2 linked regions of the Homo sapiens genome follow. The protein of the gene in region 1 interacts with the protein of each later gene in a pairwise test. Each region holds a gene or a part of one and is shown on either strand. Other genes may lie near its edges. The genes, in order: UFD1 and NGFR.

Region 1 (4,010 bases):
GCACTATGATGTTTGGTAGGTTAGGAATATTAATACATTTTTAACTTATAAGTTTATGGGACTTGGTTCCATCATAAGTCAAGGAGCATCTGTACAGTGGTATTAGTGACGTTGGTATGAGCATTCTTAGAATTTTCTCATTGGGTATAGCTAGTTATTTACTTAGAATAAATTTCGAAGGCCGAGTGCGGTGGCTTATGTCTGTAATCCCAGTTCTTTGTGTGGCCGAGGTGGGCGGATCACCTGAGGTCAGGAGTTCGAGACCAGCCTGGCCAACATGGTGAAACCCCATCTCTACAACAATACAAAAATTAGCCAGGTGTAGTGGCACATGCCTATAGTCCCAGCTACTAGGGAGGCTGAGGCAGGAGAAGTGCTTGAACCCTGGAGGCGGAGGTTGCAGTGAGCCAAGATCGCACCACTGCACTCCAGCCTGGGCGATAGAGCGAGATTCTGTCTAAAAATAAATAAATAAAATAAATAGTAAAGTTCCAGAAGTGAACTTTCCAGGTTAAAGGTTGTTAGTGTCTTTTGCAGTTAGCTGTATAACTACCTTGTCTAATTTGAACCATATCTGGGGAACAGCATCTCTTCAGCGATGGGCACAGGGCAGCCTGTCCCTTATGGCAGTGTTGTCACAGCAAGAAGTGCAGCTGTAGGTTGTGTCATGGGCATGAATGCTGTGTCATTCGCAGGAGCCAGTAGAGCCACAGTAACATGGACAGCGACAGCTCCAGTGCTGCCAGGAAACCATCCAACTGATTTCTGTGTTTGCCCCACAGATCTACGAACTGCGTGTGATGGAGACCAAACCCGACAAGGCAGTGTCCATCATTGAGTGTGACATGAACGTGAGTGGCTCTGTCCAGTTACAGTGAGCCTGGGCCCTGGGAGGATGGGCAGTTGGTGACCACTGCAGGCCAGGGTGTCAGGAGGGCATCAAACAGCCCCTGGGACTCTGGGTAAAGAGGAGGAAGATGCTGTCAGAACATCATGAGGAGACTGTGACCTTGTGATCTATCTCAGGGCCAGTTGGGGCAACAGAGTTTGCTGCCAGTGCTGCCATGGTTAGCTCTGACCCGTTGAGGAGTGAATATTCTTTTTTTTTTTGAGACTTAGTTTCACTCCTGTTGCCCAGGCTGGAGTGCAGTGGTGCGATCTTGGCTCACTACAACCTCCACCTCCCAGGTTCAAGCGATTCTCCTGCCTCAGCCTCCCGAGTAGCTGGGATTACAGGCATGTGCCACCAGGCCCGGCTAGTTTTGTATTTTGGTAGAGACAGGGTTTTACCATGTTGGCCAAGCTGGTCTCAAACTCCTGACCTCAGGTAATCCACCCGCCTCGGCCTCCCAAAGTGCTGAGATTACAGGTGTGGGCCACCGCGCCTGGCCGAGGAGTGAATATGCTTAAGAGCTAAGGAAGCGTACTGAACCTTCTGAGTAGGAATGAAGTGCTGATGCACACAGCATCCTGGTTGTATTACTAGGGAATACTGCTGAGCAAAAAAAGCCAATCCCAAAAAGTTACTTCGTTATATAACATCCTCAAAGTGACAGAACTTTCGAAATGGAAGACAGACCAGTGGTTGCCAGGGCTTAGGACTGGTGGAGGGGGCTGGGAGACAGCTGGGTATGGTTATAAAAAGACAACATGGGCAGTCCTAGTGGTGGTGAAACTGTTCTACATCTCAACTGTGGTGGATACATGCCCCACACAGTGATTACATTGTGTAGAACTAAAGATACCCATGAACAAAAACATGTAAAACTGGGGAAATCTGAATAAGAGCAGTGGGTTGTGCCAGTGTTGATATCCTGGCAGCAATACTTTACTGTAATTTTGTAAGATGCTACCGTTGGGAAAACTGGGCAAGTGTACAAGGCATCTTTTGTATTATTTCTTAAAACTGCATGTGAATCTACAGTTGTCTCAATTAAAAACAAAAAAGGAAGCCAAGGGTGGTCATGTCTCAATATTTTACTTTTAAAATCCTGGAAACACAGGTGGACTTTGATGCTCCCCTGGGCTACAAAGAACCCGAAAGACAAGTCCAGCATGAGGAGTCGACAGTAAGTGTTATCCTCAGTGTCCTTTGCTGTCCTGCTGCATGCTGCTTTTGAGTTCCTGGCAGTGGCTCGTGGGTGGCCTCTGCTAGTGTTGGTGTAGTCATATCCTCTGCGTCCCTTCCAGCCATGCTTCCGGGGGACATCCTAGCCGGGGGTGGGGGTGAGAGGGAAGCTGGGTGTCCCCGCTGAGGAGCTCACCTGTTTTTCTTTTTCCCTGTCAGGAAGGTGAAGCCGACCACAGTGGCTATGCTGGAGAGCTGGGCTTCCGCGTGAGTACCAGACCACTTGACTTATATTGCTGTGCCCTCTGCTCCTTGAAATTAGAGCACTCACTCAAGGTGTTCTCCATGATGCTCGATGGACATCAGCAGGGGTTAGGCCTCTGGGTACCTGTGCATATGCAAATCTGCCACTCGCTCAGTTACCAAACCCTTTTGTATCCACTCTCTCCTGGAATCTTCCCAACAGCCCCATAAGGCAGCCCAGATTTTTAAGAATTTCTAACCTACCGAAGAGTTTAAATAGTACAGTAGACATATACTGTTCCCTTAGGTTCACCAAAAGTTACCACATTTGCTTTCTCTCTCTTGTAAATCATGTTTCCTTTTTTCTTTGCCTGTACCATGTAGGTTGCAAACATGACCCTTAGCATAACTACTGGCAAGGCTCCATGGGAAACAGGTGGAGGTGGTTCATGTGTGGGCACTGAGGTGGCAGGAGGTGCCAGGAAGCAGCAGAGAGGGCAGAATGATGGGAAGCTGAGCTATGGGGCAGTCACAACAGTAGCCTTAGCCCACCCATAGAGCTTGAACTGGGTGGCCCTGCAGAGGCAGGGATCAGGTCTTTTAACCCAACACTGACTGCTGGCTGCCCTTGGCCAAGTGGCTGTCTTCAGCTCATGGCCACCCCCTGAGGAACTGGGCAGAGTTCTTAGCTGCCAGCACCCCAGCAGTTGAGGAGTCAGGGCTTCAGTCCTGAAGGGGTCTGCACAGCACCCCCAGCTCACATCCCTGCAGTGATCTCCAAGCAAAGGACATATCGTCCTCACACTTGGGCTTATTATATGACTCACCTACTTCCTGTCTAGGCTTTCTCTGGATCTGGCAATAGACTGGATGGAAAGAAGAAAGGGGTAGAGCCCAGCCCCTCCCCAATCAAGCCTGGAGATATTAAAAGGTAGGTCTGTCCTGGCTCTCCTCCAGGACAGGAGGAGGATCTGTGCCAGCCCGCTGGGGTCGGGCAGCCTCACCCCAGTTCTGGAGACAAAGCCTGGGTCAGTAGTCTCCCAAGGGACTAAAACCCTTAGCTGCTCTCCTTGGTGGGGTGGAGCACAACATGCCCCTCCTTCCACAGTGCCACCCCCAGTACCACTGTGGTCCAGCCTCTCTCCATACCTCTCCATACCCCCAATTCAGCCTCTTCTTGCCCCCACTGGCTTTCCTAAGATGCGAGTCTGATTAGATCTGTCTCTTACTCAAAACCTTTCTGGTCCCTATTTGGTGATCTGCCTATTTTCCTGTTTTGTGACTTGGAATTATTAATCAGGTCACATTATCTCAGTTCCCCTGAAAGTTCCCTGAGGAGCTACCTCAGATGTGCTTCTGTTGCTGGGTCCGGGGACCCACAGCAGACCCTTCCTCTGGTGGCCATGATGGCAGGGGCAGGGCTGAGGTGTGTCAGTTGTCTGTTGTGTGTGTGAAATCAGAATACTGGAGTGAGAGTCTAGCCACCTCAGGGGGTTCTGTGAAGCTCAGGACAGTGACAGTGAGGGCTTCCCAATCCTTCAGATGACCCCTCTCCATAGACAGGTACAGAGCCTAAAGCCCCTGGCCCTATACCCAATATTGATACCAAACCAAGAAGTCAGTTACTTTCTGCTTCCCTCCTGGGAGGATGCCAGGAAGCACCAAAGGGCCCAGGTGGGGTGCAGCAGCATCTTTTCTG
Region 2 (4,051 bases), on another chromosome or scaffold:
CAACTCTGTGCTCCAGGGTCTTGATGTCTGGGAACGAAGAAATGGAGGGAACAGGAAAGGGGTAAGCATGGGGGTGGGTGGCATGCTTTTGGGGTTGGGAGGCATATTATTTGGACTTGGCAAGGTTTCTAGGGCAAGATGAATTTGGTCCTAGCACATGGATGGGTACACAGATATGAGTCCATTTCACCACTTTTCTATTTATTCCCTTCTACAAAACTTTCTTGAACCCTACTGTATACCAGGAATTCAGAGAAGAAACCATAATCCCTGCCTGCAGAGCTCATAAGCCCATGGAGACACTCACAGTCTGGTGAAGTCTATATTGTTGAAGATGCATCTGTTTGTTTGTTGATGGGTGTCAGTGTGTGTGTGCACTCATGAATGTGTGTGTTTGTGTGACTGTATACATGTGAGGGCTTATGCAGACACGACTGTATACATGCATGTGTGAATGTGTACATATGCGCGTTTGAATGTCCGGATCACATATGTGCCCGTGTGCATGCCTGGAGAGGTGCATGTGTGGGACAGTCAGGTCGGCAGGAGTGCATGAGAACGGTGTGGGCACACGTAAGTGCACGATCACACATACAAGTGAGCTTGAGAGTGTGTATTCCTGTGCACTGTGTGCACACCTGTGACCCCTTCAAACCCCTCATTTGAGAATCAAATGATGTCGGAATGGACTCCACCTTGAATGTCGATGGCCGAGGTAAGGGCGCCTGCGCCCCTCCCCTCCCCCTAGGCCTCTGCCCAGGGATCTCCTGCACTGGGAAGGGGAGGGGTGGGGATGGGGTGGAGGTGGGGTGATGGACTGAGATGAAGGGCAGGGAGGGCAAGCGGGCATTCTTACTGATAGGGGGCAGTTAGGGAGCAAGGCTCCAGGGAGAAGGTGAAGCCAGAGGCGGAGGAAGATGGGTAAGAGAGTGAACCCTGTGGCGGGCCGCAGCCGGAGAGGAACAGGAACCGCAGTGGGGACGCCCTGGTCCCCGGGCCCACAGCATCCGGGACGGACGCGCAGTAGCGCGGGCCGGGAACTGGGTACCAGGGCGGGATGGGTGAGAGGCTCTAAGGGACAAGGCAGGGAGAAGCGCAGCGGGGTGCGGGGAACCGCACGCCCTCCCTTTGCCTCTGCTTCCCACCCCGAGGCGGCAGGGCGGGCGGGCGCGGTTCCGGGGGTGGGCGGGCTGGGCGGGGCGGAGGCGGGGCCGCAGCACTGGCTTCACCCAGCCTCTCCCGCCCGCAGCCAGAGCGAGCCGAGCCGCGGCCAGCTCCGGCGGGCAGGGGGGGCGCTGGAGCGCAGCGCAGCGCAGCCCCATCAGTCCGCAAAGCGGACCGAGCTGGAAGTCGAGCGCTGCCGCGGGAGGCGGGCGATGGGGGCAGGTGCCACCGGCCGCGCCATGGACGGGCCGCGCCTGCTGCTGTTGCTGCTTCTGGGGGTGAGTGTTAGCCGGAGGGGGCCCGCTCCCTTTCCCGGGATCAGAACTCCGAGAAGAGCCGGGCGCCGCCACCAAGGAAACAGAACAGAGCATTGGGGTCCCAGATACTGAGGGTGGGTGGTGGGAAAGGACCTCTGATGCCGGGACCACGAAGGAGGGTCTAGGGTTCCCGGAGCGCAGAGGCGACTCTCCAGGGTGGAGATGAGGGCAAGACCGGAGCACGGATGCCGGTCCTCAGGTACCGCAGGGGGCGGTGGGGGAGCTGGGAGGGGTCTTTCAAGAGGGGGCATGGGGCTCTCCGATGCCCAGGTTCTTCGGAAGAGGACACTCGAATGCCGGGATCCCGAAGGGACTTTCCCCTCAGCATCTCGGTCTCTGGAGAGTCGTGGGACAGAACCAAGGCGAGAGAAGGAGGGGGAACTGGACGGGGACTAGAGATGAGAGGGGCGAGCTGGGCTGGGGCGGGGAGCCCGGGACGACGGGATGGAACAATGGAGGAGGTCGGAGGGACTGGAGGCAGAGGGGACCCGGCAAGGACAATGGGGACCGGCCAGACAATGGGGGGGAGGGGCGTCGGAGGGAGAGGTTGGGGAGCGGGAGAGAGGTTGAGAAGTGGGTTAGGGAGGGCAGAAGAGGGGCGACGGCGAGGGCGGCAGAGAGATGGAAGCAGAAGGAAAGGAGACAGAGCGGGGCGCGGACCCTGAAGTGGTCGGGGTCCCGCCTGCCCGCTGAGGGACAGTGAGACGAGAAGAGAGAGCAGAGGCTTGGACATTTCCAGCGCCTGTCCCCGCGCTCCTGCTCGCGGCCTCTCCCAGTCCCGGAATTGGGGCTGCGGATCTAAGGCTGGGAGGGGAGTGCCCACTTCGCCGGGGCGAACCCGCTCCCGGGGTTCCCCCACGGCCGGCGGGCTCCTCCGACGCGCGTGTTCTCACGGCTTGAAGCAGCGCAGCGGATCGCGAGGGACGGAGCGGGTGTGCCCCTACCCGGGCTGGCGGTGGCTACGTCTCGGGGTGCAGAGCGCCGGGGCGCACTAGGCGGGGACCCTTCCTGGCCGCGCGCAGCTCTGGCTACGCAGGCGGGAGGCGGCAGGCAGGGGGCGCTGCGGGGCGAGGCAAGTGCAGTCCGCCGCTGCCTGCCTGCGAGTCTGGGGCTGCGCGCCGCTCCCCACCTAGCTGCGCGACCCGAGCGCCGCGCCCACCGCGCTCCGTGGGCTCCCGCGCCTCGAAGGGTCGGGATCCGGTCTGAGCCTCTCCTGGCTCTCGGTGCAAGCCGCTGGGCACCTAACGAGACGGGGGCGCCCGGACGCCTCGGATTCTGTAGCGCGGTATCCCGGGCCACCGACTCGGCAAAGGTCGGCGGGTCCTCCGGGTGGTCCGACGAGATTGTCAGATGTGGCCTGCTTTATGGCCATGAACCGAATGCCCTGGAAGGTCTGGCAACGGAGGAGGCGTCTTCACTCTCCCCGCCAGCATCTTTCATCAGAGCACTGCGCCCCAAATTCCGGCTTTACAGATACGGAGACTGAGGCTCTGAGAGTTTAAACGACTTGGCCAAGATCTCACAGCAAGTTGGGCCAGAGTCGTGGCTAGACTCCCCGACCTGATTCCCAGCTCGGTACTCCCCCACCTTTTCAGGGGGCAGCCGCTGTCCCAGCTCGGGGTCACGGCTGCGTTTCCCAGCAGGGCGGGGGGGGTTGACACTGTCCCCAGAGTCCGTCGGCGGTAGAGCCTGCGGGTGAGGTGGGCAGAGATTCTGTCCGGGTGCGGGCCCCAGCCCGAAAGCTCAGCCCCAGTTCCCTGGAGCTGTCAGGACCTGTGGCTGCGTCCGGGGATTTGGGAGCGACCGCGGGCACGTCTGCTGACTAACGCCGCTGGTTAGAGACGCTGCTCAGACGCGGGTGGGCGAGCGTAGACCAGGAGAGCGGGGAGGAGGGACCGGATCCCAGAGGGGCAACGACTTGGGCTCCGGGTCTGGGCAAGAGCGAGGGTCCCCGCGCGAAGACCCAAGGAAGGAGGGGAGCTGGGCGTGGAGGACCTGGGCGCTTGGGAAGGTGTACCCCGACAGGAACCTGCCGTCTGCAGCCCCTGCGGCTCCCGCCTCCGCCTCGGCGCGCGGCTGCTCGGTCTGGGATGGCTGTGCGCGGTCCGAGTTTCTTCCTGGGCCGCGGTGAGAGAGAGAGGGCTGAAACCAGAGCGCGTCCCGGCGGGTCGGCTGGCGGGCCGCGCCGGTAATGGAGGCACTTTGTCATTCAGACGTCTGTAACCAGAGCCGCCGGGCTGGCTAATGCGCCTAATAGGGATGGAACGAGGGCAGCAAATGGGCGTGCGTGAGCGGCCGGGCTGAGCTGGGTGGATGGTGGATGGGGAGGCAGCTCCGCGGGGGACGGGCCCCTACCGCACTGTTCCAGCCCAGTCTGGCTCAAGCGCCTCGCTTCTTCCCTGGGGGACCGCGTGGGGAGGCGGGAATAATCGCATGTGCTGAGTTCCTACTAAGTGCCTTGCACTTCCCTGGTAGTTTCTCTTGAATTATTTAATCCTTATAAGGTCCTAGCAAGGTGAATTTAGTTATTCCCACTTCGCAGTTGAGGAAACAGAACCTTCTAGACTTTC

The links.
Region 2: the proteins of UFD1 (region 1) and NGFR interact in a two-hybrid assay, tested with the Homo sapiens proteins (one large-scale study listed by BioGRID and IntAct).

What each region holds. Positions count from the first base shown.
Region 1 is NC_000022.11:19,454,912-19,458,921, reverse strand, and holds part of UFD1 (ubiquitin recognition factor in ER-associated degradation protein 1), read left to right. Parts: intron 1-782; coding exon 783-851; intron 852-2,003; coding exon 2,004-2,069; intron 2,070-2,287; coding exon 2,288-2,335; intron 2,336-3,153; coding exon 3,154-3,242; intron 3,243-4,010. UniProt on the Homo sapiens protein: Essential component of the ubiquitin-dependent proteolytic pathway which degrades ubiquitin fusion proteins.
Region 2 is NC_000017.11:49,494,042-49,498,092, forward strand, and holds the start of NGFR (tumor necrosis factor receptor superfamily member 16 precursor), read left to right. Parts: upstream 1-1,251; 5' UTR 1,252-1,376; coding exon 1,377-1,442; intron 1,443-4,051. UniProt on the Homo sapiens protein: Low affinity receptor which can bind to NGF, BDNF, NTF3, and NTF4. Forms a heterodimeric receptor with SORCS2 that binds the precursor forms of NGF, BDNF and NTF3 with high affinity, and has much lower affinity for mature NGF and BDNF.